Linked DNA regions of Homo sapiens: regions 1, 2, 3, 5, 6 and 7 are each reported to be linked to region 4. The links are microRNA targets in miRTarBase. Many come from high-throughput screens and were not tested one by one. Region 4 holds a microRNA gene; each other region holds the end of a gene's coding sequence.

Evidence for each region. The annotated mature microRNA hsa-miR-6124 reads GGGAAAAGGAAGGGGGAGGA and lies in region 4 at 1,683-1,702, shown strand. An mRNA with a match to its seed (bases 2 to 7 or 8) in the 3' UTR can be bound and repressed. Matches are read on the target gene's strand: a 7mer-m8 pairs with bases 2 to 8, a 7mer-A1 pairs with bases 2 to 7 and ends in A, and an 8mer does both.
Region 1: the mRNA of KCNJ2 is a reported target of hsa-miR-6124. Seed matches in the 3' UTR shown: 7mer-A1 at 3,820-3,826, 7mer-m8 at 3,423-3,429, 7mer-m8 at 3,014-3,020 and 7mer-A1 at 2,457-2,463.
Region 2: the mRNA of IKZF5 is a reported target of hsa-miR-6124. Seed matches in the 3' UTR shown: 7mer-A1 at 738-744, 7mer-A1 at 837-843 and 7mer-m8 at 1,070-1,076.
Region 3: the mRNA of MAN1A2 is a reported target of hsa-miR-6124. Seed matches in the 3' UTR shown: 7mer-A1 at 2,552-2,558.
Region 5: miRTarBase lists SESN2 as a target of hsa-miR-6124. Seed matches in the 3' UTR shown: 7mer-m8 at 1,197-1,203.
Region 6: the mRNA of PRUNE2 is a reported target of hsa-miR-6124. Seed matches in the 3' UTR shown: 7mer-A1 at 1,392-1,398.
Region 7: the mRNA of DIPK1C is a reported target of hsa-miR-6124. Seed matches in the 3' UTR shown: 8mer at 2,200-2,207.

The regions. Positions count from the first base shown.
Region 1 is chr17:70,175,875-70,180,405 of GRCh38, reverse strand. It overlaps KCNJ2 (potassium inwardly rectifying channel subfamily J member 2), which reads right to left. Exons shown (of 2, transcript NM_000891.3): 2 at 362-4,531. The coding sequence ends at 4,083. Among named protein-coding and RNA genes, the nearest start is that of KCNJ2, 8.6 kb to the right of the region's middle.
Region 2 is chr10:122,990,958-122,993,957 of GRCh38, reverse strand. It overlaps IKZF5 (IKAROS family zinc finger 5), which reads left to right. Exons shown (of 5, transcript NM_001372123.1): 5 at 1-3,000. The coding sequence ends at 178. Among named protein-coding and RNA genes, the nearest start is that of PSTK, 12 kb to the right of the region's middle.
Region 3 is chr1:117,521,851-117,526,383 of GRCh38, reverse strand. It overlaps MAN1A2 (mannosidase alpha class 1A member 2), which reads right to left. Exons shown (of 13, transcript NM_006699.5): 13 at 1-3,559. The coding sequence ends at 3,427. Among named protein-coding and RNA genes, the nearest start is that of TENT5C-DT, 82 kb to the left of the region's middle.
Region 4 is chr11:12,162,010-12,165,074 of GRCh38, forward strand. MIR6124 (microRNA 6124) reads left to right here and starts at 1,674; the gene lies at 1,674-1,758. MICAL2 (microtubule associated monooxygenase, calponin and LIM domain containing 2) reads left to right here. Exons shown (of 28, transcript NM_001282663.2): 3 at 70-410. The coding sequence starts at 147. RefSeq lists an enhancer at 1,415-1,914.
Region 5 is chr1:28,279,754-28,284,286 of GRCh38, forward strand. It overlaps SESN2 (sestrin 2), which reads left to right. Exons shown (of 10, transcript NM_031459.5): 10 at 963-2,738. The coding sequence ends at 1,049. Among named protein-coding and RNA genes, the nearest start is that of SESN2, 23 kb to the left of the region's middle.
Region 6 is chr9:76,611,340-76,615,872 of GRCh38, reverse strand. PRUNE2 (prune homolog 2 with BCH domain) reads left to right here. Exons shown (of 19, transcript NM_015225.3): 19 at 1,273-4,497. The coding sequence ends at 1,303. All of the region lies in intron 5 of LOC105376095 (a long non-coding RNA gene), which reads right to left. Among named protein-coding and RNA genes, the nearest start is that of PCA3, 150 kb to the left of the region's middle.
Region 7 is chr18:74,433,192-74,437,724 of GRCh38, forward strand. DIPK1C (divergent protein kinase domain 1C) reads right to left here. Exons shown (of 4, transcript NM_001044369.3): 4 at 1,584-3,528. The coding sequence ends at 3,310. Among named protein-coding and RNA genes, the nearest start is that of DIPK1C, 22 kb to the right of the region's middle.

The sequences.
Region 1 (4,531 bases), not on the chromosome of region 4:
AACTCTACACATAGTTGAGGCTCGATAAAGAGCAACTACACCTTATCACCCATTAAAGAGAGAAGCAAAATCTAAACTTGATAATATTTTTCTTAGTTTTTTTTTTTTTTTGGCTTGTTTATTGGTCTTTTGTATTCCCTTTCTACCTAGCCTATTCTATCCAAAAACAAAATATGAGCTTGACTTCCTCTAACTTGAATTAAACTAATCTGTCACCCCACTGCACCTGTCTGTTGAGGCCATTTCTATGGCTCTATGCATCTAACCTATCAGGGTTTATGTTCCATTGTTTGGGAACATTTGCTTTATGGTGTTTCTAGAGTAATCATACGGGAAGCCCAAAGATTCTTCCAAGAATTTGTTTTCAATTTTTAATTTTTTTATTTAGAAATAATAAAATAAGACATAATATATAAAAATATGTACAATCCATGGTTTGTGCAGTACAATAGGAAGACTTTAGATACAAAAAGACAGCAAATGGGAAAATAATAACTATCACGATTGTCAATGGCTAGGATTGTTCAACTTGCCAGAGCCCAGAGCGGAAACCCAAAATTACCAGAAAAGAGATTCTACTTTGCTGAGGGTTGGGGATGGGCAGGTAGCTATGCCACACTTTTTTTTTTCCCACCTTAACATTATTAGACACAGAGTGAAAAAGAACTCACTCTACTTCTCAGGACAAGCTTTTGCTTTTACTGAGTGGTTTATTATAAAATATGAAGTGACATTTATTAATTGTAAGGGAAATATGATTTACGGGACAGAACTCATCAAATAAACAGAGTTGAGATAGGAGTGTACTGGTAAGAAAGGAAGTAAAGAGAAGAAAGAATGCATTAACAGAATAAAAACAAAGTAAAACAAACTTTTCTAGGAATTTGGAAATGACAACAGTGCCATAGTGACATCCTTAAAATGTCTGATTCAAGTATACTCTTAGAGGGATAGAAAACTACTCCTTTCTCAATAATCAAAATAGAGTTCACTTTGTCTACATTTTGTTTAAAAATAGGATAACCAGGAATCTATGGCTCCTCCCAAAAATATAGTGCCCTTCCAGATATGGGCAAAAATTCTTTAAAAGGGAATAAATCCGAAGTAAATCCAACAGGGAATCTGCTTGCAATAGAGAAGCAACACACATCTGGGAATCAACCCCAGATATTCATGGTGAGTCCCCTCCGTCTGCATTCTAATGACATGTGTACATTAATTAAGGAGACCCAGTCAATAAGGACAAATATTTTGAAGGTAAAATGCAGCAATCAATGTCGTGCATTACCTGTGTCTTGGCTCTTGACAAAAAAAAAAAAAAAAAAAAAAAAAAAAAAAAAATTGCCATTTAAAGCTTGTAACTGTTAAAACGCTAATAACTAGAAAAAGGTTTCAAATGAACAGTCCATGCTGAAATAAATAACAGAAGAACATAGCAATACGAACCTTATAAGGCTGGTATATATTTGCTAAAACCATGCTAACCGGTAGCATATAGGTACTAGCTCTCAGAAATTACTGCACTGAAATTATACTTTCTATGGCAATTATTTTTCTTTACAGACCTCTATTTACATTTGGCTTTAAATATGAAAATATCTGATAAACTTTATAAAATGTACACTTTAAAAACATAGCTTCTGCAAAATTTTCTTGAAAAAACAAACCTGTGCACCAGAAATTTTATATTTTTTTCTCTTTTTCAGAAATAAGTTGAAAGATTTCCCTCCCTCTTTCTTGCCCCCCCCATACCCACCCCCTTTCAAATTTCTCAAGTCTTTTTAAGTGGCAGCACTGTGTGTTTAGGGGGAGCCTCTTTTGTGGTCACCCCCATTCTCCACTGTATCTTCATTTAATTTACATATCACTGAATACTCTTTGGTTTGATTATTTTCCTTTGCAAAACATCATAATAGCAGCAGCTGAAGCCCTCAATATCCTCTCACTGTCAAGAACCAAATTGTTGCCTCTTCTGTAAGTTTTCTTTACAACTCAATCCCCAATTCCTCCAACTCTTTAAACACCTTCCCAAACCTGCCTTTACATTTGGATCTAAAACAACCACTTGCTTAACATCTCTTTCTTTGTTTCATTGAAAATAACACCTCAGTTTCCCAAGCCATCAAATCTGAAGGCTGAAAACAGCAAAAATTGTCATAGTTTTGCAGGCACGGCATTCAGATATGGCTGTTCAAGAACCAGAGACCATCACAAACATCAGTTTACAAAATACATGATTCTAGAACAAGCTGTTTTTTAATGGCATACAGAGATATAATACCATAAGAGAGTTGATTTTGAGACTCCAATTAAAAAGAAAAGTCAGTAATCCCAGAATTCACAAATAGGGAACTTTAAATTAAAAAAAAAAAAAAAAAGAGTTCCATTATTGAGCTTCAGTGAGAAAAAAAAAATTATGTTTCTAGCAAGGCAGTCAGCCAGGCAGGGGAGGCTTCTGGAAAACAATGTGTCCTTCCTTAGTAACCTGCTCTAGGGCTCCACAGGAGAAAATGCTTAGCTCACATTCAGTCATAAGTATGCACACAGAAAAGGGAAATAGCTGTTTTAGACCATTATCTCCTTTACTTGTGATTATGTTATATTTTTATGGCTCTCATTGACCCTAAAATACTGAGACATTTTCATTACTATCCTCTGCCATAAAAAAGGCAAGTTTCCTCTCCTTCCTAAGCACTTGATCTGAAGTGCTGCATCAAACTGGCTTGTCCACACCTCCCTGTTTCCCTGCTTTGGCATTTGCCGCCCTATCTGACACTGTAGGACTCAATCCAGACAGACTGATCAGAAGAGCAAGTGTGGAGGCCAGGTGTGGCATCTTCCCTAAGGTGAAGGTGGGCTGGTGATGTCCTGACAGTCCAGGCAATAAATTCAGCAGCAAGGGTTTAAACCCATTTATCTTTCATGCTGGATGGCTCAGTTTTGAGAATGCCAGGATGCCAAGGAGGTCCTATGAAGATCTTGTCTTATGAAATGAATTTTGGAATGTGCAAAAGGAAAAGCCCAGAAAAATATAAGAGTACATCACCATCTCGCACACTACACATGAGCCTGGCCAGCACTGCCTAGCAGGAAAGGATAGACGTCGGTATTGTGTGTGTGTGCCCCTTTCTTCTTCTTCCTCTTAAAATAAAAAAGTTACATGAAAGGACAAAATTTTTAAAAGCACTACACTGACTAGACTCGGTGAGTATGATGCTCTATTTTCTGAATAAGGTGCAAAATGAACCGGCGGTTCAAGGTCTTGCTGAGGTTCAAAGTTATTGTCTCTTGATTTCAAGGCAGCCCATGGGGCTTTGTTTTCTTTTAAGTGTAAGCTCCACTGTGCAAAAATATGCATTATCTTTGGTATTTATTTTAGGTAGTTTAACTTAAAATTTGAGATAACCCATTAACATCATGGAGGAAAAGAAAAAAACAACAACCCAGAGGCTACCATTCGGCTAGTGTTACATAATGCCCTTATGTAACAAAGAGAGAGAGAAAAAAAATCAATTCTAGCAAACGAATTACTGGCCTCAAAAAATCAGGCTCTTGTTTTGGCAGTTAATAGCCAAATACTTGCCACTTTGAAGCGCATCATGAGCTTTCAATAAAATTCAACACTGACTTTAAAATTACACAAAAGGAAAACTACACTGCAACAAAAATACACATTTGTGTTCATGTAGTTAGCAGCTTTTCAAAAATTAAGGCAGAGTCTTGCCTTTGTTATGCCATTAAAAACATCCTTGTTCCCTAAAGAGAAGCATTCTGGATAAATCAAATACCCAACCAAGGCTTGCCTGCAAGTTCAAGTTTTGGAAAAACACAAAACAAAACATAAAAACCCATAACTTATTCTACAACATCTATGTGCCATCGGGTCACATGGAGACATGGTTAGTGCTTTATGCTAATCATGGAGCTTACAGTCTTTCTTTGAAACCATTGTGCTTGCCTCAGTCCCTTGTGGCCGCTTGCTTGACCCATCTTGACCAGTACCGTCATCTGTATAACTGTTTTGGGCCTCTGACCAACAGACCGTGTTGTAAAGTAACTATTCCAGAGAAGGAATCAGTCAGTCATATCTCCGACTCTCGCCGTAAGGGCCTGGGCTCTAGAGGTACACTTGCCTGGTTGTGAAGGTCTATGTCAGGGGGCGTGTCCGTACTAGTGCTTTCTGGAACTCCATTTTCACTGTCGTCTTCCTCTTTGCTTGTGAGGGCAACTTCATTTTCATAGCAAAATGAATTTGCATTTGAGAGGATATATTTCTTTTCTGCTAAGTCTCTGGCACTACAAAGGGGAGTGTTGGGGACTTCGTAAGTTTTGTGGAACCTGGAATAGTCCACTTTGTAGTAGTGCTTCTCTTCAAAGAGCACAGGCTCATAGCGGTGGCCCCACAGGATTTCATTTGCTAGATAAGAGCTACGGCACTGTGTCGTCATGGCAGTGGCTTCCACCATGCCTTCCAGTATGACCACGATTTCAAAGTCTGCGTTGTCAATGTCCTGTTTACTCAAATCATATA
Region 2 (3,000 bases), not on the chromosome of region 4:
GCTTCTGCACCACTGCCAGCACTGTGATATGTACTTTGCAGACAACATCCTTTACACTATTCATATGGGATGTCATGGGTATGAAAATCCTTTTCAGTGTAATATATGTGGATGCAAATGTAAAAACAAGTATGATTTTGCCTGTCATTTTGCAAGAGGGCAACATAACCAACATTGATTGAAAATAGTCATATTTTACTTAGTTTTGCTGTTTTTGTGGTTTGGTTTTTTTTGTTTTTTGTTTTGGTCATCCCTAATAAAGTGTCTGCTAATTCAAGGCTTATACATTATATTTATAGAATATAAATTTGTCAGTGGAATAAAATTTCCCCTTTTTTTCATAAAAATCTGGTCAGGGTCATTTATATATTAGAACAGTTAGACACATTGGTGTCTCTTTTTTCCTTTCCTTTCGACATTGGAGAATTGGAGTGCAGTCATAATCTTACAAGATGTTCATTTGAATTTCTCACATTTATGGTCCATAAAAACTTCAAGGCTTATCCATACTTTTGATGTTTCAATATGCATTGAACTGGATGTTATTTCTGCCATATTTCAAAATGGTAGAATAAATTACAGAATTTATTACTACTCATTTCAGTGTTTAGTACAGAAATTGCCTTAAAAATTGCTATTAATTGAAATATCATTTAGTTCACATTCCTTAAGTTGAATCGGTAGTTTCATTTCAACTGATAATAGTAAAGCTATTTCAGTTTAGTAAAAATTTTCTTTTTTCCACAAGAGGAAATGTAAAACAGTTAAGACTTGAAATTGAAAATTCTTTTAATATTTAAAATAACTTGTTTATTCAATGTCTAAACACATGTCAGTTTTCCACTGGATTTTTATTTTCACAGGTAAATACACTAGAGTGCTAGATGCCTTTTTCCCCTGTCAGTTTGACTTTCATTTAAATCCTTCATTCTGATATCATTACTGTTAGGTGAGGTGGATAACTATAATGAGAATCTCTTATTCTTCCTATTCCTTTGATGACCAAAGAGATAAAGTGAAGTCATCCTTATTATTAAAATGCAGCCTCCAAACAAATTTCTCAAGATTCCTTTTCCTTCCTTCTATCCATTTTCTGCCCATAATTTCCAAGAAAAGGTGGGTATGGAAACACATGAGAGAATGTGATAGTGAAGTCATATTTACAAAACTGAGAACATGTCCAAAATGGATTCTTGTCTCCTCTTCAGAATTAGCCATTTAAAATATTTTCTGTGACTTCAAATTGTAATTCTTATTTGCAGTTTTACCAGTCTTCATGTACAGTGACGAAACTGTGTAGAAACTAAATCATCGCTTTAGTAAGAAAGGATAAAAAGGTGTGGAAGTGAATATAAAATGCATCTAAACATGACATTTAATTTGTTTATAAAAATAAGACTTACTAAATATAGAGTAATTCATTTTGAATAGGAGGCTATTGTTTTTATATTGTGTAATAACTCACGTACTCTGAAGAGAGCTTGGTCAAACAATAAAATACATTGTTACTAACTTGGTTTCTTTTCTGTGTACTTTGCAAAAATTCTATTTTTAATTTTGTTCATATGTTGAATGTGCCCCTAATTGGCATCTTAAAGAGAATAGTAAGCATCTATTAACCAAAAAAGAACTCTAATAGTAAAGGAAAGGGAAATATTGGTGGTATGTACCCACAAAACCCCCAAGTGCCAAGTTAATGGAATCTCTGCTTTCCCTTTCAGATGCTAGAAAGCCACTGTAATGAGTTCTTGCAGTTTAGCATCCAGTCTAAGCTACTGCATTGTTTAAAGAGCAGCATCAAGGACACTTTCTCCAAACTGGAACTCTCTTCTTTGTCAAATCTTGTACTTTAAAATTCTACAATTCTGTTACATTGTTGTTTAAATCACAGACTGCTCAGATCCATTTTACTGCAGTAGTTTCCAAGTGTGTAACTTGGCTTTAGTATTTATCAGTTGCCAGAAAGAAACAGGTTGTCATTTGGAAGTTTTTGTGGTTATTTTTTCCCATTTTTATTCTTCAGATAAAAGCAGTACCCCAAAATAGAAAATGAAAATTTTCATGAAACAAAGAGAACTCCCTTGTTAAAACCAGCTTATTAACTCTGTATTCTGTCAAATGCATTTTTTTCTAACAACTGACCATGGATGTTGTGAAGGTGCATTTTAATTTAAACATGGAAAAGATTTTTTTCATAATTACATACTAGAATGTAAAATTATAATTTTGCCATGACTTAAAGAGCACAGTTGATATCCCAAAGGTTTTGATGCTAAGAAGCTACAGTTATTCTAAATGCACTAAAATGTTTGAGGCAAATCTACCTTAGAGGCTTTTTTGGTATGGTATTTTTTAAAATATTTAGATTTTATTTAAATTTCCTGTGAGTTATTCTGTATTTGAAAAGATGTTCGTGTCTTCCCCTCTGTATTGAATGTTTCACTCATTTTATTTTTAATCAAATATTTTATAGAAATGAGTTGTTGGGAAGAGTTTAACATGCACTATTTATAGTACTTTGCCGTTAACAGGCAATGTTCTGAAACTAAATTTATTTTTGTTCAGTGAACATAAGTTTAGATTTTTAAAGTTGGTAGATAATTTATCTCCACTAATATTTTTTTAAGAAACTGTGAAGAGATTAACTGGGAATAATTTTATTTCAGATTTTACTAATGTAGTATGTAGCTACAACTTCTTGAACTTCAAGTTAAGGCTAGACATTTACTTTGAAAAAATTCCACTGGGTGTTTCCAGGGCTATTTCATTTTAGAAATAAGTGTTTGCCATTCTTCTGCAAAAACTGGACAAGGGGAATACTACAAAAAATACTCAGAGATAAAATCCTCATTTCAAGTTCTACAAAATATTTATCAAATGAATGTTAATTTTTTTTTAATTCCCTGCTAAAGACGTTTTCATTAGTCTTAGAGGGTATATGCTTTCTAGAACTTGTTTTTGTTAACATGTGCTTTGATGTAAAGAACATATTTTGTATGC
Region 3 (4,533 bases), not on the chromosome of region 4:
ATGAAATATAAAATTAAGAATTTTGTAACACGATTCATATTGGAAACATTTAAAATGTTGTGAGCTACTCTCATACAGAAAATGCTGTGGAATCACATAAAACATTCTAATGATTGAAAGTGCCAGGCACAATGCTTGGCACATGTTAGATACTTCATAAATGTTCGTTCACACATTCTCTCATTTACTCATGCACTCATTCAAAAAACTCCAGGCTTAAGGAGAAACTGCATTATAAATGAGAATGGCAAACACAATCTTTTATCAACAAATTTGGAGTTTTGACAAAGACTTTGGCAATGGAGAGTGGAGAAGATGAGAGGATGATGATTAATATTTCAAACTGCTTGGTTAAAATCTAGCAAGTATAGCCCTGAGTTGCTCTATATGACATCATAGAGGATCAGGGTCAATACTCCATAAAAAGAATGCATTTCCCTTCGATACCCAGGTTTTATTTTACATATAAACACCTGCTTAAAGTCAGGAATACGCTGATGTTAGAGAGATACAAAATGTGCAACCCACAAGAAAGTAAGAACCACCTGACTGGGGACTTATTTTTCTGAGTTGAGACTTCTTTTTGGTTAGGGCCCCATTCCCTTGGTTTTAACAACTTAATACTGGTTGAATAATAATAATAATAATAATCTGGTTTAACATAAAAAGTGTGATTCTAAAATGAAGAGAAATAAATGTAGAAGGAAGAACAGTGTTCAAAATTCCTATTTTTTTCGATTATGCACCAACTGATGTATCTATTCTGCACATTTGTGCCAAAGGCACAAGGTAAGGTGTCAGCTCTTTGAAGAGGCACCTGAAAAGGACCATTTCTGGGCTTTTTGCAGAAGATCTTATAAATGCAATGAATATTTAACCTGAGTATTAAGGTCTACAAAATGCAAAGAGCTGTAAAAGACAGAAGAAAGTAAAGAATATTCTTGGAAGCTAAGCATTATATGGGATAAGAATTGATCTTGAAGGAAATAATTTAAAAATCTATAACAAAAATAAAACATGACACTGGCAAGTCATTTGTAGCTGACTTTAATTGCCTTTGGTATTCAGGAGAATAAAAAAATGGAAGTACTTTTATAAGCTCTAGTCTTTCCATCACATAGAAGGTAAGGAGTGGTGAAGAAGACCCTTCCATTGTCCCTGTCAAATTCTTTGTTTGTACCAGAACTGGCTCTGCTTGTATACTTCCCTGCCTTCTCTTAAGCTTCAGTCATCTGGGTAATACAAATAGAGCACTTGGAAGTAGGGGTTCTGTCTCCTCATCCCTTGAGAAGTTCCTGCAGAACCAAGAAGGTCCCTTTACTCTGCATTCTTCTAAATAAGGTAAAAGAGAATTCAGAGAGTTCATTGCCATCTGCACTGCTGCTCTGCATCTTTGCCAACTCAAGTTTTTCACTTTTTCTCAGTGATTCATAAGTGGGCTTGTGCTACTTTTACGAGGAAGGCTAACATTTTTTAGAACCAAATACTTTCCCTTTTCCCTTCTACAGTTACAGTAATATATATACCTTTCTCATTTAGAAATTTAAATGTTCAAGTAGTAAAAGATATTACAATGTCAAAACATGTGCTATAATTTAACTCTCTTAAGGACTATTGTAACTGGCCCTGCATCCTTATTTTCTACTGAAATTTTTTTGCAGTGAAAAATTTTATACTGAAAAAATTTGCAGTGGTTATCATTTACGGATCAGTAGAACTGTCAAAATTAACGATTCGTGGTATAAGATGATCAACCTTAGAAAATACTATATTAGTTAATTAAGTCTTTCCCCAACTTAAAACCTAAGTTTAAAAGAAAAGCTTATCAAACAAGAAAATAAGCCTTCAGAATTCCAAGGTGGGCTTCTTGTACAAACTTTGTTTCAGGAAATCTTCAAATTCAGAGTAAATGTTATACTAATTATACTGTTTCTAAGTTTTATTAATGTCAATGGAAGATGCCTATATTAAATGAAAAGAGCAAAAGTATCTTGCACTGTCACATAAATTTAAGGACAGAAAATTTATAAGCACTAGATATTTATCTTACAGTTCCTGATAAAATTTAAGTTCTTTTTGTCAAAATATAAAGAACTAGTAGTTTATTTAAAAAGAAATATCAATGCAAAACCTACTGATAGTAAGATAAAGTTCCTTAGATGTATCCCAATTTTAGTGTAATATGATTAATTACAACACTCTTTTATCACTGAAAATTATTTTGAAACTATTCTGATTCTTTGGAATTCTATAAATATTCTTGGAGAAAATTAAAAAAACATAAAATATCTGTGAACAACTCACTCATCTGATGAGATTATAAATAAAAGATCCCCTGTCCCTATTCCAGATAGAATATTTTAGAAAGTTTCACTGTTTGTTCTGCTTTAGTAAGTTATAAAAGTAATTTATTTAGCTTATCAAGGCAAATTTAGAGCTGCCTTATAGTGATTTTTGCCAAGCCACATAAATAAAGTTGTAAGTTGAGTGACTCTACTAACTTTATTATGAAATTAAAGTGAATAAAATTTACTTGGTAGATGTGTTGGTCTGGAAAAATAATGTAGCAACAAAACCAAGGATTGCTCTTAGGTTTCAAGGCAACAAACTGCGGCATTTTCCCCACTTTCTGTCATGCTACCAACACTAGACTGAACTACATGCACAAAATCCCAAACCCAGGCTCATAAGTGGTGATTATGATAAATAGCAGTTTCGATGATTCCATAAGAAGAAAAAGACTTGAGTATTCTTTGTGAGATCATGCCCCCAGAGAAAATTAAACTTAACCAAGAAATTTCAATGAAATAGACTGGGATTTGAAATGGTTGCCAGTCTGGTCATCCAATGGGGAACTTGAAAATTCAGATAGGGATAGGTACTCCTGTTTCTTTTTTGAGTCTTCTTGTTACTGATATAATTATACTATTCTTTTGTTCTTGTTTATTTTAGTTCATTCCATTATTAAAATGGAGAAAAAGTGATAAGCAATATGTAAATATTTGATTTGAATGCTGCTCCACTGTAGGAGGAAACAAATACATAATTGGTTCCAAAGGCCATCTTGAACTCCTGCAAGGTGCTCTATATTCTTGACTTGCTTTCAGGAAGTCTAGCCTCCAGACTTCAGGACTCTAAAAACAATACAGTAGTAACAGGTATCATTTCTCATGTGACCACCTCATTAACGATCAAAGCACATCCAGGTCTCTGTCCTACACATATCAGAACATGTTTTGGTCAGGTATAAAATGGAATAATTTCAAAGTTGATGTATCTACAAGTTGAACAGTCTTAGGGGGAATAGTTTCACCCTGTCATGTTGACATAGAGGTCCAGGTTTTCAAAAGCCGCCCCTTCAAACTAATTTCTGTAGTGGTCCATGTAAACAAAACACAGGTGAGAATGGTCCTTCTGGAACTGCTTTCATCGAACAGCAGGATTACCTGAAAGTGTGGTGTTGGCTAAATGTAACACAGGCAGAGGGTGAGCCTCTGTATTAAACACCCAGTGGTCTAAAGGTAAAAGGTCATCACCGGAGAACAGCAGATACAAATATCTGAAAATAAAAAGGGGAGAAATGAGCTTCAGTTAGAATTCAACAAGAACATGAAGTGAGCTCACTTTTAATGGCACAGAAAACCAATAACGTATTTTGAGCAGCTTTGATGAAAAACATCAAAGAAATAAACCTCAGACACCCAAATGATCTAAACACAAAGACAAGAGGTTTCAGAATAGTGTATAAGAAATCCAGTAAGATGAACAACTAGACCTACTGAAATAAAACAGTTTAAAAAAAAATCCGGCCAGGTGTGGTGAAGAGAGCAGACACCTTTGTCTTGTTCCTAATCTTAAGAGCAACACATTCAGTTTTTCAATATGATGTTAGCTGTAGGTTTTTCATATATGCCCTTATCAGGGTAAGAAGTTTCCTTCTATTCCCAGTTTGCTGAGAGTTTTTATCAGAAATGGGTGTTGGATTTTGCCAAATAATTTTTCTGTCTACTGAGGTGGTCTATTTTAGTTCATTGATTTTCAAACATTAAATCAACCCTCCACACCTGGGATAAACCCATTTAGTCATAACATATTATCTATGTAATTTGTTGTTAGAGTTGATTTGTCAAAATCTTGTTTAGTTCTATCTATGTTCAGGAGGAATATTGGTTCTGATGAGGACTCTGCTGTCATTCATTTTTTTCCATAAGTTACTGGGGTACAGGTGGTATTTGGTTACATGAGTAAGTTCTTTAGCAGTGATTTGAGAGATTTTGGTGCACCCATAACCTAAGCAGTACATACTGCCTCATATTTGTAGTGTTTTATCCCTCGCCACCCTCCCACTCTTCCCCCAAACTCCCCAAAGTCCACTGTATCATTCTCACACCTTTGTGTCCTCATAGCTTAGCTCCCACATATCAGTGAGAACATACGATGCTTGGTTTTTCCATTCCTGATTTACTTCACCTAGAATAATAGTTTCCAATCTCATCCAGGTCACTGCAAATGCTGTTAATTGGTTCCTTTTTA
Region 4 (3,065 bases):
TCTCAGCACCCATCCCCCACCCTAACCTCATCGTCCAAAGCTGACCTCTGCCTCCCCCTACTTTCACAGGTGTGACGTTTCTCCAGATACTTCATGCTGTTCACCTGTGTCCTCGCCGCACCACTGCCGCACACGACTCCTGAACCATGGGGGAAAACGAGGATGAGAAGCAGGCCCAGGCGGGGCAGGTTTTTGAGAACTTTGTCCAGGCATCCACGTGCAAAGGTACCCTCCAGGCCTTCAACATTCTCACACGACACCTGGACCTAGACCCTCTGGACCACAGAAACTTTTATTCCAAGCTCAAGTCCAAGGTGACCACCTGGAAAGCCAAAGCCCTGTGGTACAAATTGGATAAGCGTGGTTCCCACAAAGAGTATAAGCGAGGGAAGTCGTGCACGAACACCAAGGTAAGGGGAAACCCTCCTAGTCTTACCTTTGCAGGGCGTGTGGGTTGACATTTGGGAGGTTAGGAAGCTGTTGCCATTTTGGCACTCTACGGTTCTTAGGTGTGGGTGTGAATGTTGCATTGTTTTCCTCCGGTAAAGGTTTCCTTTGTCTCTAAGCATCAGCTTTTCCTGGCTGGGAGGTTCCCTCCACTCGTGCCCTCTCCAAGGGAGGGAAGCCAGAGGCAAAGTTGAGGGAGAGAAGCCCATGCTTGATATTACCCCCACTTCTATTATCCCTGCTGCCACTACTACTACTTCTAGTAGCTGCTATTTGTTGAGCAGCTTCTAGGTACAAGGTACTTTATGTCCATGATTTCAATGAACAGCTACAGCAGTCCTTCAGGCCATTTTAGAGATGGGGAAATTGAGAAGTCAGTTGTGCCCAAGGTCACACAACTAGAGGGCAACCTTAGTCCATCTGATTCTAGGGCCTAAGACCTAAATCTCAGGGAGAGGCATAGTTACAGAGTTGTGTTCGCCTGGGTGTGGACATTTTAGAAAGATCCCCTGGTTTTGGATTAATTGGCTAAGAAATAGGTCTAGGTCCTTACTGCCTCTTCCTCCCTGTCTCTTTCTCTTCCTCCTGATACCCCTGCATTCTCCACCTGCCCACTCCCTTCCTCAGGATGCATTTCTCTACCTAGGACCACACTCATAGTTAAGCCTACACGAACTGGTTGCATCCCCCATCATTTGGCCATAGACAGCATCGGCGAACATAGGCTCACTATCGCAACCTTTCTCTGACATTTCTGAAATGCCCAGCACCAGATGGGCAGGTGGGAGTCCAGGCGTCTCAGCTGACTTCCCTGGTGGCCGTTGGGGACTACCAGCCCTGAGCACTGGTGCAGGCTGTGTGTTTAGGTTAAAATCGAATGTGCTGTATTTAGACCTCACAGGAGGTAGCTCAGCTAGAACCCTAGGAATTCCAGCCGGTGCCAATCCCGGGACAAGAGGATTGAACTCTCCATGGCAGTCGGGACTGTTGTGTTTTTGTTTTGGTGGTGAGAAGCTGTCGAGTCCACCATGGGATATGCTGCTTTCCACTGCCCCTGGGGAGACAGCTGCCAAGCTCCTGTGAGCCTGGGGCACACTGACACTGCGGGACGTAGGAAAAGCATTCCATCAGGTTGAAACAGACCAGTCGCCTCAGCCCAGAGCAGACTAGCTATCCAGGCAGTGCCTGTTTATAACCTACCATGCTCCAGCTAGGCAGAGGAGATGGGGGAGGTAGGGAAAAGGAAGGGGGAGGAGAAGGTGAGACCAATGTCCTGGGTGCCACTCCTGCCCAGTGCCTCCCTTCCTCGTTGTTGTGACTTCATGGTTCAGAGTTCACGGGGTGGCTCTTCAGAGTTAAAGGAGGGGAAGCTTTTAGCTTCCAAAGTGTCATCCCTCTTAGTAATTGTATATGGTGGCTTCTTTTTTTTAAAGGTCCCATAAAAGTCAGGTGGCCCAGTTGCACTGTGTTCTCTCACAGAGGGTTTTCAGAGCTCTGGTTTTTATTAGGGAATGCTATTGCCCCATACACCCAACATGTTGTGGCTGCTGAGGGACCCTCTTGGTGATCTGAAGACAGATTGTCACAGGGAGTCAGCCAGCAGAGGGATGGAACGGAGGGCTGACCACCAAGAAGAGACCCTTCTTCCAAAACATACTAGCCAGTTGCCTAGCTGGTGTGGCCAGCCTCTATTTTACAAGCTTTGGTAGCTTGAAATAGAACAGTCATCACATCTTGTGGTTGGCAGGTCACCACTGGCTTCTGTGATGCAAAGGGAAAGAAAGCTCCTTTTGTTAGGGATGCTGGGTAAGGTGCCTCTTGCCCAGGAATTTTTATGCCTGTCTTGTGAGGAAGAACAAAGACATTTCACATGTGAGATAACCCATCTCGTAAAAACCGCCTGAATGCTGAGGACTGGAAGATACATTTGAGAATGCATTGTAAGTATGAACTGTGACTGTGTTAGGCTACTTGAGCTGTGCTTTTCAGAAACCCAGCTCAAAATAACCACAAAGAACAGGAAAATCATTGACTCATATTAACAGGAAGGTCCAGACACTTTAAGTCCTGACCTTAACTTGGGTGCTTTGATGCTTTGCTCTCTATTGGCTCCATGCTTCCCTCCTGCAAACACATTTTTCTCCATGTTCGAAGCCTCTCATTCACATCTTTATAGCTCCATTCCAAAAGGCTGGAATCTGTCTCTTCCAGGTCAATATTGAAAAAAACCTCAGAGAAGGATTCTAATTGGCCCACTTCTGGATTTATTATGGCCAAAGCCAGAGGAACTGGCTACTGTGATTGGCAGCCCTTTCAAGCATCACATGATTGATGTGAGGGAGGAGCAAATCCCCAAGGATGTGGGAGTGTGAGACAGATAATCAACAGGTGTCCTTGGCTGGGCGTCGCGGCTCACGCCTGTAATCCCAGCACTTTGGGAAGCCAAGGCAGGTGGATCACTTGAGGTCAGGAGTTCGAGATCAGCCTGGCCAACATGGTGAAACCCCATCTCTACTAAAAAATACAAAAAAAATTAGCCAGGTGTGGTGGCAAGTGCCTGTAGTCCCAGCTACTCAGGAGGCTGAGGCAGGAGAATCACTTGAACCCAGGAGGCATAG
Region 5 (4,533 bases), not on the chromosome of region 4:
CCAGGATGGTCTTGATCTGACCTTGTGATCCACCTGTCTCGGACTTCCAAAGTGCTGAGATTACAGGTGTGAGTCATCGTGCCTGGCCTCTCTGAGCTTTTTATCCTGTTTTTTTTTTGAGACAGAGTCTTGCTCTGTTGCCCAGGCTGGAGCGCAGCGGTGTGATTTCGGCTCGCTGCAGCCTCCACTTCCTAGGCTCAAGTGTCCTCCCAACTCAGCCCCCAGAGGGCCTGAGGTACACACCACCTGATTTTTTAAATTCCTAGTAGAGATAAGGTCTCACTGTGTTGTCCATCCTGGTCTCAACCTCCTGAGTTCAAATGATCCTCCTGCCTCAGCCTCTCAAAGTTTTTTGTTTTTGTGATGGGGTCACACTATATTGTCCAGGCTGTATTTGAACTTCTGGACTCAAGTGATCCTCTCACCTCAGCCTCCCAAGTAGCTGGGATTTCATTTTTATAATGGGAATAAATACTGCTGTATTTCAAGGTTGCTGGGAAGATAAAATAAAAAAATGTACATAAACCTCTGCAACCTCTGTCTCCCGGGTTCAAGTAATTCTCCTGCCTCAGCTTTCCAAGTAGCTGGGATTACAGGCATCCACCACCATGCCCAGCTAACTTTTTGTATTTTTAGTAGAGATGGGGTTTCACTATGTTGGCCAGGCTGGTCTCGAACTCCTGACCTCCTGATCCACTCGCCTTGGCCTCCCAAAGTGTTGGGATTACAGGCGTGAGCCACCGCACCTGGCCATTTTACCTTTAGGGAATACAGAGCTTAGTCATGATAGGAATGAATGTGCTTGTCCTTGTACTAAACTGCTCAGAGCCTTAGCAGATGCTGGGGCAGCTCTGTAGGAAAGGAAATGGTGAGGTAAGTGGGTCAGGGATCAAGGCAGTCTGGGAGGGGTGTGGGGGTGAGGAGTGACATCAGTTGCCAACATGCCTTCCTCTGTGCCCCAGGTCCACGTGAACTTGCTGCTCCTGGAGGCGCGCATGCAAGCCGCTCTGCTGTACGCCCTCCGTGCCATCACCCGCTACATGACCTGACTCCTGAGCAGGACCTGGGCCCGGTTCAGCTCCCCACAAGGACTTCTCTGTCTGGAGACAGCCCCAGACCCTTTTGTGTCCCATGCCCACCCTCCCCACGCTGCAGTGGGCTTGTGTGTGATGTGCAGTCCCGAAGCCACACCCTCCCTTTTCCTCACTGGAATGGACAGTTCATTGCACTGACTCTGGGATCTCAGCCCTGCTCCTGGGAGCTGGAAGAGCACTTGGAGATCCTAAGGGACCACACCCTTCCTCCTTCCCCTGCCCACAGAGGCAGAGGGCACAGGAAAGAAGCCGGGCCAAGCTCGGAATTAATGTGCCACAAGTGTTGTGGCCTTCCTGAACTGGGAAGTCCCTGGCTGGCCCCCGGGGGAGAGGGGCAAATGCCTCCGGGACTGACACTCCAGGCAGCTTTGCCTTCTCTCCCCTGTCATTTCCAGATTTCATTACCTCCTACTTGCCATTCACCCATCAATGTGAAAGTCAGGGTCACAGCTGGTCTGTGTGTCCAGTTCCCTAAAAGCCTGTTCTGTTGGGCAGCCTGAGGCTGTTGCCCGAATCCTAGTTCAGTTTTTTGACTTCCTTTGCCCTTTTTCCCTTTTCTCCATGCTTAATGGTGTGAGGCGTCAGGAGAGAGGCCAAGTACATAAAAAAAAAAAAAGCAGATTATCTCTAGAGAGTTTGAGCCTTTGCTGGTCACATTGCCTTCTGAAGAGGAGGGAGTATTAGATTATAAATCCTCTTTATTTTGGTCCTTTATGCTTGAGGTTCCAACCTGGAGCCACAGTGTGTGAGAGGAGGAGGAGAGGGAGAATTCTGTTCTCCCAGAGCTGCACCTGCCTCGCAGAGGCCAGCACCCCACTCTCCTGCCTCCAGTGGCCCTGCCGCAGATGTCTCCCAAAAAGTTGAGCCTTTCTAGATGGCTTAGGTGGCACCATGGCTCAGCAGGAGGGGCGGGAGGCACCAGGGTTCTTGTTTGGACCCTGCCCCTGGGCCATGGCCAGGTGACCATGGCTACATTGCCAAACCTCTGACTGCCACAGCTGCAGACTGAGAGGGTGGGTCTGAGTCCCCACAATGTCTGAAGCTGCCCCTGGGATTCTCAGGCCAACCTGCCAACAGCAAGCGGATTTTCTTGCAAGATCAGGGACCCCATTTCTGCAGCCAGTGTCTCCTGGGTGCCTTCTGAGGACTCCCACCCCCATCCCAGTATCTCATCTGTCCCCTCTCCTGGGGCTTAAGTGGGTTGCTTCCAGGCAGAAGCAGCCAAGGACCGATTCCAGGCACTTTCTGTAGCAAATGACTGTGAATTACGACTTCTCTTGCCCTTCTTCTAGCAGTCTGTGCCTCCTCTCTGACCAGTTTGGAGGGCACTGAAGAAAGGCAAGGGCCGTGCTGCTGCTGGGCGGGGCAGGAGAGGAGCCTGGCCAGTGTGCCACATTAAATACCCGTGCAGGCGCGGAGAAGCAACCGGCACCCCCTTCCGGCCTGAAAGCCCTCCCTGCAAGAAGGTGTGCAGGAGAGAAGAGGCCCCGGCATGGGGATCTGGGTTCTAGAGGGCATGTGATGACTGTAAATGTTCACTGGGTGGGTAGGGAGTGGTATCCAGTGTTCAAGTGCAGAAATCTTTGGCTTTGCTACCAGTTCCATATGATGAGAAATAAACGTTCGCTGAGGTTTTGTTTCATACTCCCTTTTTATGGGCTGTTCTTTCAATTTCCTGAAGGTCATGGTTCACCTTGTAGCATAGGCAGAGAGCTGTGATTGCATCATGGGCCTGACCTGATAGCCCCTGCCCTGCCGAGAACTTGTGCCCAGTGATTGTAGGTTGGGACTGTTGGCACTGAAAGTCTACTTGTCCCTTGGACATCCAGTCCTGTCACCCTTCTGCGGCTGCCCTGGCACTGTGGAGTAATAATGACCATGGTGTTTTTCTAAGCCTGGCCATGGGCTGGGTACTTGGAGACCATTCCTCTGAATTTGCAGCAATCCTGTAGGAGAATTGAGACGGGTGAACTGACGTTGTTGAGGCCACATGGCTAATCGGTGGGGGAGCCAGGATTCCCCCCTGCTCTGCTTGACCCTGAGGCCTTGACATTTTACCTTGCTGTTTTGCCCACTACTGGACTTCCCCTGTGACAAAGAGGCTGTTTGAATCTGGAAGGACCCCCTTGTGTCCCCAACCCCACCACATTATGATTACCTGCTTCTCATCCTACCGCCTCCAGCACCAAGGAGACAACGCCAGGAACAAAGAGGTGCAACCCCCAAGCTGTGCCAGTGCCGTTTATGGCTGTGTGACCTTGGTCAAGCTTCTTAACTTCTCTGGGTACCAGGAACTAGTTAGCTTACCAGGAAAACCACATCATGTAAGAGCTAAGACCACTCCCGCGGGCTTCCTACTTCCTATAAATACCGCTGTCAGAACACTAGGTCTCTTCCAGGCAGCCTCCCCTAGTGGACTTTGTGTTCCCCTTCCCCTTGAGGTATCTGTTCATTTTCGCAGGATTCCTATACACTTCCCCTTCCTCTAGAGTCATTTGAGAGGGTGTGGGAGAAAGTGAATCACACTTGGAGTACAAAACCTGGATTCTGGTTCTGATTGAGCCACTCACTATATCGCTGGGGAGATTGATTAATTTCCCTGTGCCTCAAGTTTCCTCAGCCATAGAAATGGGGATAAAAGTTTTCCATTTCTTTTCCAGTTGGCATGCATTGGGTGTTTGTTTGAGATGGAGTCTCGCTCTGTCACCCAGGCTGGAGTGCAGTGTCACAATCTCGGCTCAACTGCAACCTCCATCTCCCAGGTTCTAGCAATTCTCCCACCTCAGCCTTCCTAGTAGCTGGGATTACAGGCACATACCATCACGCCCGGCCAATTTCGGTATTTTTAGTAGAGACAGGATTTCACCATGTTGGCCAAGCTGGTCTGGAACTCCTGAGCTCAAGTGATCCACGTGCCTCAGCCTCCCAAAGTGCTGGGATTACAGGCATGAGCCACTGCGCCCAGCCTATGTGGCATGCATTGAGTGTGACTGTTGCCAAATGTTTTCAAATTTAATCTCCCAATCTTCACAACAACCCTGTGAGGAAAGGGTCTGTTCCCATCCTATAGATGTGGAAATGGAACCTCAAATGAGAATCTGGGGAACACCAATTTAACAGACAGACCCAAATTCAAATTCCAGCTTTGACATTTAATGTCTGTCCGATCATGAGCAAGTTGCTTCAATACTCCCTCCTCAATTTCCTTATCTATGGGATGGAATTAATACCTAAGGTTACAAGAGGGTTGTGAGGATTAAATAATGCATAAAAACCACCTAGCACAGTTCAGGTACCTGGCATCTAGCATTCGCAAGCTGTTCAGGATTCAGAAATTTGCCCAAGCTCATGCGACTGAGGTAGAATTTGAATCCTTCTCATTCTGATTCCAGAGTTCTTTGTATTGCTTTTTTTTTTTTCTTTTTGAGATGGAGCTGGA
Region 6 (4,533 bases), not on the chromosome of region 4:
GCTTGAATCTAGGAGACGGCGGTTGCAGTAAGCCGAGATCGCACCACTGAGCTCCAGCATGGCGACAGAGCAAGACTCCATCTCAAAAAAAAAAAAAAAAAAACCACACACACAAAACAACAACAAAAAAAATCCACCGAGGTACTATTGCTGCTAATAATAACAGACATTATGATATGTTCATTATGTACAATTGAAAATGCTTTAGACTTATTCATTAGCAAGCTGTGAAAGCGGTATGACCGTTCCATTTTACAGATACAGAAATGGAAACTTAGAGAAGGTGGGTGACTTGGCCAAGTCCCCACTGCTAATAAGTGACGGAATTGCTGACTATATTTCAAAGGAAAGATACTTTACTACTGTAAACTGGATGGGCAGGCAGCGTGAGTTGCCAGTGGCTTTATTTGCAAAGCTTCTAGAATGAACACTGCTCAGCTGCCGCAAATTCCACAAGTAAAGCACAGTAACCTTTGCAACATGCAAGCTTATGGCTCAGGGAGCAGAGATAAGCAAAATCCACAGATACGTGCCAAATCACCCTTTGCAAACTAATAGTTTCTCTTTTATCGCAACTGAAATTCTTCCTCTATTTACTGGCTTTTGGTTTTCTTCCTCTTGGGTGGATGCGGTAGGAAGTTGTGCTGTGTTCACTAAGAAGCAGAAGAGAGACGTGATTCGAGTGAGTTTTAGGCTTACTCCTCAGATACTTGGGAACCCATTTGACCTTCTGAAAAACAAGCTTTTCTTTAGTTATAAACATCCATCTCAGTAAGGTAGGCTAACCCCTTTCAGTCAATTCCTTTGGCTTCTAGAAAATGTTTGGTGTTGTTTTGTTGTTTACCATTTCTTACTATTTAGTGCTTGTCAGACATTACTTACTTGAGGCAGAACATTTGTTTGCTTCACAAGGAAAGGTCACTTATTAAATAAAATGGCATGATTTCTGGAATACACTAATGCTCCTTATCTTAATTGACTTTGGGAATGAGCCTTTACATGAGTTTTTTACCTCCCTGGATCATTTTGAAAAGGTGTAAAATGCTTCCAGAAACGATTTTGTAGAACTAAACAGATTTCATATGTTGGAGAAAAGCCTGACAAGAGGAGGATTGGGTTTTACCAGATTTTTCTATTATAAGAAACTTGCATGATTTAAATATTTTCAGTATGTCCTTTGAGGAAAAAAGCAAACACAGTGCTACCCAAATCATTACTAAATGTCTCTCATTTGGTTTCTCATGTTTCTCTCTCTTTTTCTTTTCTTTGCAGTATTGACTTGAAGCTGAAAGAAAAGCCTTAGTTGGCCATGCTGGAAGAAGAGGATGCTTTTCTGGTTCATGGTTCTGTTGAAACATATCTACCTGAAAGAGACAGGGCTGATGTTACCTTTTTCCACTTTGCACTACCTGGTGCCATTCTAAATTTCTAAGGGGAAAAATAGAAAGTTTGTTTACTCTTAAGATATTTTATGAAATTGTGTGTACTTTCCTATTTTGCCAATTATGTGCCTCAAAGATTTTAGTTGAGCCTTAGCAAGAAAGTAGGACCTTCCATTTCAATACTTCATTAACACGGTGTAGTGATACTTTGTCCCTTAGACTGGTGTTTACCAGTAAGATACCTTTAATCCACTGTTAAGTATGAGTGGATTTGTTTCCATAGATTAGCTGGATTTCCTTTTGGTGATTGCATTAGGTTTAAAGTACACAGGTCTCAACTCTCCCCAGGAAAGTTTCCCCTGTTTGACTCCACCTTTAAAATCCTAAGCCTGACTAGGACAGCCACAAACCACACAAGGTGTAAAACCATCATCAGCTAAGTGCCCGTTTTGTTCTTGTTTACCAGAATCTCCTTTAACTTCTCAAAGGGAAGCCGGGCTTTCTAATCCACGTCAACTTTATTTTAGTTGTCAAATTGGGCATTATATTTTATGTAAATTGGTCTTTTAACATCATTTTCCTGATGAATGTTGGTGACCACCACATTGTGAAATTTAAGAATCCGTGTTGCATGTTTGGTAGCTCTCTGAGTTTCAGGCCATAAACTCAGCTCCAGAGGTTACCTTTTAAGTGCCAAGAACTCAAGTGCAAGGTGGCCTACTCAAAAATCATTTGGTAGCATTCAGTTATTCATGAATTCCTCTCTCGCATGCATTATAAAAAGTGATCTGCTTTAAAACACCGTAATCTGATCATAGGCTTAAAATTAAATATGAGTATTACTTTCATGTACAAAATATTTCCTTTATAGTCTTCATATGCCCTTTAAAATGCCAACAAGATTTCAAGTCTGTAGGCCTCTAGTGAGGTGGGGTGGCAAACCACAGCTAAGTCTCGCTCACCACTGCAAGCTAAGAATGGTTTTTACATTTTGGGTTGGAAAAATTTTTTTTGAATATTTCATGACACATGAAAATTATTCAAATGTTAGTGCCGATAAATAAAGTGGTACTGAAACACAGCCACACAAACTTGTTTTTGTACTGTCTACAGCTACTTTCACACTACAGCCGCAGAGCTGAGCAGTTCAGCAGACCGTATGTCCCACAATGCCTAAAACATTGACTATGTTTACAGAAAAAGTTTGCTGACCCCTGCTCTAGCAAACGCATCCTTTCCTACTCCACCCCAATTTGTATTTAGATAGTTTCTCTAACAGAACGGACAAATGAGGCTGCAAACTAATTTATTTTTGTCAAAAATCAATGTTTTGACATCCACAGACAGTGAAATAAAAGAAATGGCTTGCTGAAAAACATGAGGAGTCCTAGCCACAAAATCACTGCTTAGGTTGCAATTGCCAAAATGAAGCCTTCTTAGAAGCACTTCTTTAGTATATACAGGTGTTGGCTGAAGTCCGTGCCTCACTCTGGGAACCATTCTTAGTCTCCAGTGTCTCCTATTACAAAGAAGCTGGCAGAAATAAAAATGAAGGGGTGAGAGCGGTTCCACCCTAGTCTCATGGTGGAAAATTCATTGGGGAGAGCTGTCCAGGATATTTGGAGTCCTGGGTAGAAGGAGCTTGTAACTACTTTAAAGTCGACATCTTTGCACAGGTGATTGAGTTTCTCTGACCTCATTGCTTCACCTCTGTCTCCTCCCGTCCTTCCGCACGTGCCCACACACACGCAGTTCAGCCCTCTTTCCTCCATAAGCCTCCATCGTTTTCTCTTTTCTCCTCTTGATCCTTTCAAGCGAGTATCTTGTTGAATTGTATGTTCTGTTGGATCTCCTCCTTCATAACATCTGGCTTGTTGGACAGAAAAACCCTACAGCCCACCCCCTCCCACAGCCCACCTCCACTTTTGAAAGCCCAAATTACACCTCTCCCAGAACACAGTGTTGACGTAAATACAGTTACCCAATATTCCTGTTTGTTCACCTATTTGCTACTTTCACTCAGTAGCATCCCATTTTGTAAAATGAATTCCATGGTCACCCTGTCACAGGAAGTAATGAAAAATCCAGTGTTCAGTGTAGTGGTGCAAACCTGAGGGCATAGAGCTGTTCATAGAGGGCTCTTGTTATAGCCAAACAGACACAGCAACAATCTCACCATTTATATATATATTTTTAACTTGTCCAGCTCATCTATGGAAAACTACTCAGGTGGTATGCTGTTTGAAGCCTCATCTTCCTACATGAAAATTATGGGCATTTGTCCCAATGATTTTGTTTCAGCTGTTCTGTAGGCTGCATAACCACTCTGATATTTAGGTATCTGCTATTTTATTATCTTAAAAGACAAATTAATTTAATTGCATGTGCTAGGGAAAAGCTACCATGTACATTCACCCCAAGTAAATAGAATCCTAGATGAATCCTAGAAAAATAATCCCTAAGCAGATAGGTAGACAGAGGTAAACATTCACATGATTTAGCTCTCTAGCTCTTGCACTCTGAACATTCTTGCTTTGGTTCTGACTTCTGGGAACTGCTTTGCATTTCTCCTATAGATCTGTAGTTAAGGGAACCAAGGGGTCATTGGGGCAAAAGCATTGTTTCTCAAAGCTCCTTGATTAAGAGAAAGAACAGAAATTTGCACAGAAGATAGTGTCAAGGAGTGAGAAAGTTTGTTTGAGGGCAGTAGCTCAGTGTGGAAGAAAATCCTGAAGTTTCTGTTGAAGCCATACAATGTTCTATGGGGTTACTCTCTAAGACATTCTCTGAGGTGTGTGAGGAAGTCACTACTCCTAGCCTTTGTTAAGATGTAATTTTAAATATTCAGTTATGGTACTATGTTTGCAACTCTCGTCTTATCACAATGCCTCAGTAGTTTGTTCCCTTAGAAACATTTAGATGTGCACAAATTAATCTTTTATATATCTAAAGGTTTTTCTATCATGCATTGGATTGCTCAGAATAAAGTGTCTGTTAGACTTCGTTTTGGTAAATAAATTCTCCATAATGTAGATTAATAATATAAAAGTCTTTAATGACACAATATATCTATATAGCCTCACTGTATAATTCAGAAATAAAAATTGATTCTGCATGTGATGGTTTTCTTTCTTTGAGTCAGCAAGAATTT
Region 7 (4,533 bases), not on the chromosome of region 4:
GAGCCGGGTGGGCGCATTTCTTTTTTCTGACTGAACCAATAGATGTTAGAGCCAGAGTGGCATTTGTTTGCCAACCACAGGGGCTAGCGTGGTGAATGCGAGAGTATCTTTATGCGGTCATTGGTTTTAGAAATCTCCAACCCAACTCCTCCACTTACTGCTGTTCAAAGAATAGCTTCCAAATCAAGATTTAAAAGAGTTATTCTTCCAGTAATTTAAGGTAATGTCCTGGATGTTCATCATAGGTACTCTGGAAGGGCTGAGCAGGCTGGGCCTTAGTATGGGGCAGGATGCATGGGAGGCTAAGCCTGGTGGACTTCTAGGAGGCAGCATGTCTCTGAACTGTTAGCTTTAATTTGTCTCATGTGAGATGAGAATTGAGAGGAGGGTTTAGCAATATTGGCAGTGTTTGTAAACGTTTGTGATGTTATGTGACATTGCCAGTTGACATTGGCCAACTGACTCATTGACCAGTCTAGGTATCCACGAACTTGTCTCCTGAGCCACCTACGATTTCTATACAACCCACGTGTATTAAGGTTTGTCAGCTGTAAGCCAATGGAGTATACAATTATGGAATTCTTTCTTTTCATCAAATGAAGTTTTAACTACAATTTGTCAAGGTAAACTGTGGCAATGGAATCCTGATGAAGGACTGGACATGAATAAAGCACCATTTGCTTTAATTTGGATACAACTTAAAGAGGAATAGCCTGAGCTTGATGAGTTTACTTTATAATCTTTTTCAGATCCCATCAACATGTCTCTGAGAGTGTTCTGTCTACTATGTGTTATTACAACAAAACATAGAAATCATTTAGGGAGACATTTTCCTCTACGAGTGCGGTTGTTGCTCAATTAGATCAGCCAGAAAAAAACCGATTTGTCATATTCAAAATACTAAATATTGATATACACAGTGTTAATTTATTATGTTATATAAAAGCATTGATTTGCAAGGTTTCAAAATTAAAAACAAAACTGAGCTTCACCACAATTTGAGAGCCACTGCTCTAATGGGAATTCCCAGGCAGGGATGGAAAAGGGTGTGTGTGTGTGTGTGTGTGTGTGTAACTGTGTAGCCAAACATAAAGGGAAGAGATAAAACAGCTCCCTTTCAGCAATAAAACCACAATTGTGTTGGATAATTATATATTGCACAGTCTCCATCGTAAACAAAAACAATTTGTTTCCATTTTGGTTGAAATGAAAACTAACTATTTCTCTTTTCCAGGCTGGCTTTGCTGCCTGGTCAGTGAGCTCAGGCCACTAATGAATGGCTGGCATCCCAGCGTCTACCCACAAAAGACCCACTCTGACCTCCCAGAGCGAAACCCCACTGTTTAAAGGGCACAGAGGGCAAAGCCCTGGTGGCTTCCCTCCTTCCCCCCCTCCATCTCACACCCGTCTTCCTGTAAACCTTTTTGCTTGTAGAGAACCTGCCTAGAAGGTGAGCATGGCCCAAAGTATGCCCCGACCACCACAGAAAGGCATTGCACCCAGCGCAGCTCTGGGGAAAATCGGAGCCTCCACCCAATAGCCCGAAGCCCGCCCTTTCCTTTGGAATCCACTAGTCCTAGGCCTGGCCGTTGAACTTTGGTTTTAATTTGCTCGTGCCACAGGGTGACTGACATGGGTTTTTTCCTTCTTGCTAGAATACAATTGCAAAGCGAGTCTTCATGTCCATGATGAGGAGGCCCTCTATGGAACTCTGTGTCATTTGGAAGATCCCCAGTGGTGATGGGTAAGAATAACAGCTGGCAGTGGGCCTTCCAACAGGTCTTTGGGGAAGGCAGAATTTAGAGCTGGGGGCCTCTGATCATGCTAGTCCCTCACACACCATTTCTCAGCGTGCCCTGAAGGGCAGAGTCAGTAAATGTGACCCCAAAGTCTGGAAGAAGGCATTCCCGTTTCTCTGGTTTAGAAAGGGGCTGCAGGCCAAGATAAGAGACCATTTGGAATGTGTCAGTTTGTGACTTTCACAACGTCCGATTAATTTGTCTTCTTTAATGTGTAAACTGCCAACATGACTTCCTGATTCTCTCATCTTTCTCGATTTCCCTTTTCATGGGATTTCTGAAAAGGGGTGACCCGTTGGTTTGTTGAGCACTCGTGGGTCACAGTTATGGGTAGAAACCAGGTCCCTTTAAGTGAAAGCTCACTGGCTTCACCTGGCCTGTCCCCCTGCCTGTATTTTGCTGGAAAAGCCTCCTTGGGATCACCACTGATGAGCGTATCATGCCACCATAGGATTTGATGCCTATCACTTGGTCTTCAATCCATCAAAAGAAAGGTGCTGGTCTCTGGTCCTGCCTGGAGTCAATGCAGACCTCAGCATTTGCTCTACTTTAAATTTTCTCTGAAGGTGAAGACAATGCTGCATCAAGCCAACCTACAAGTCCCTGCCCAGGGGAAGGTGTATTGCAATACGAGGCGCCCTAAAACCCATCCATAACCTTGGTGGATTCCACAAAATGAAAAATACTATAAGCTGCCGTTACACACGCTCTCCAATGCAAATTCCCTTCCCTAAAGATGCAGCTTATTTTCTTTTTATTGTATTTAATTCCGAAAGAATGGTCACACTTCTTTGCTAGGTAGGCAAGATGTTCCGGAGGACACACTAGAGAAAGCACCACTCCCCACCCTAACCCACATCCCCAACACACTCACCTGCCCACACTCACACAATCACATACACATGCCCACACTTATATACACATGCTGACACCCGTGCACTCATGTGCACACACTCATTCACACTCATACATATTCACACTCAGGCATACTCATACTCCTCATGAGCACACCACACTCACCTGTGCACACTCACCTGTGCACACTCACACACATGCAGACACTCATGGGCACACTCACACATGCTCACATGCTCATTTGCACCCAGACACAGGCATACACATCATTTGTATGCACACACGCACACTTTTTAACGTGGTAACGATTTACAGGAAAGAACAGCTGGAACTCGTGCTGGGATAACCAGGTACAAGTGCTCTCTGCAGAGAATAAGTGCACACAGGTTGGTGTCTTCTGACCGAGAGCCCTCCTGAAGGGAGGTCTGTACCTCCTCCCTCATCTCATTTTACACAAGGCGACAGGTCAGAGGCCAGGGTGGGACGAGAGCGAGGGAGCACTGTCTCTGGCAGCAGCACTTGCCACTCCACAATGTGGAGACCAGAACGGCACCCCAGAGAGCACAGGGGAAATGGCTCATCTTTAAAACAATGGCAGAAGAAATCCAGCCAAGGTCACTTTTCCTGTGTGAGCATGTTTAAGGCCAGAGAGTGGCTACTTCTCTGCCTCCTGCAGCTCCCTCAGTGTGGCTTGGAGGAGTTGGCGAAGCTTCCAGAACACGCTGGAGGCTGCTCTCCGGGTGTTCCCACTGGGGACCCCAGGGTCTGCACATTCCTGCACCGCCTCCTGTAACTGCAGCTGAAGCTGGAAAGAGACCGCAGAGCTCTTGAGAGGCGCGGAAAACCAATGGCGAAATATTTTGTCACAGATGACCTGAGGGAAAGAAGGGTGGACAGTTAATTTAGGGCAGCAAATCCTCCTAAAAGCTTCCCAAGCCCAGGATTGGTTCTGAAACAGATTTCAGCTTCTCTCCCACCCCCACCCCCGTCCTTCAGGGAGCACACTCCAGAGACCATCCGATTTGGAAACATGCCTTCACTTCTGCCCCTTAAACCCTTCAGCACCATGAACAAAAGACGCCTCCGAGAGGAGAAGCCAACATCTGTGTGAGGCAGAAACTTCCCTTTCCAGCCCCCTAGCAGATGGACAAAGTTCTGGGTGACACTGTAAAAGGACTGGACACATTTCTAGGGAGGAAGGGAAGCAGAAGTCACAGACAGTCACTGCTGCAGAAGGAGTTGGTCCTTTGCAGGCCTGAGGGAGGCCGGCTTTGCTGTTACCACCTGGAGATGAGGTTTCTTATCCACAAGCTGGTCCTAGTGACAACAATGACCATCTGACCGGGCTGTCCAGAGGGCCAAATGGTGCGTGAGGGAGAAGTGTGTGAACTTGTATGGCTGCCTGTATAGCACTTTAAGGCTCATGAAACAAAGGCATATTTGACAGAAAAGACTGCAGGCATAAGGCTCTTTGAAGGCTCTGTGAAATGTGTTATTCTAGGAGCAGAGGTAAAAATTAGACACTCTCTTTAATTCTAATCGGGTATGAAATTCAGTGATGCTGAGGATCACTAGAAATTTCTCCCTGTAAACATGTTGTTTGTTTTATAGCTCCTACAGCTTCCCCCACGCTGGGAGAAATGACCTGCGAGCTGCGTGATGCATCATGCTTTATTTCTCTACATCACACTTTATATCAGACTCAATTAACAAATGCCTCCATTGTAAAGAGCTACTGCTTCATAGAGGACAAAAACCTTCAACTTCCATTTCACAATCCCTGCAAAAGCAAGGATTCTTTTCAAAACCTAATTATGGTTTTTTTAAAATAGAGAATACATTTTCATGTGCAAAATTTAAAATGTTCTTAAGGCTAGAC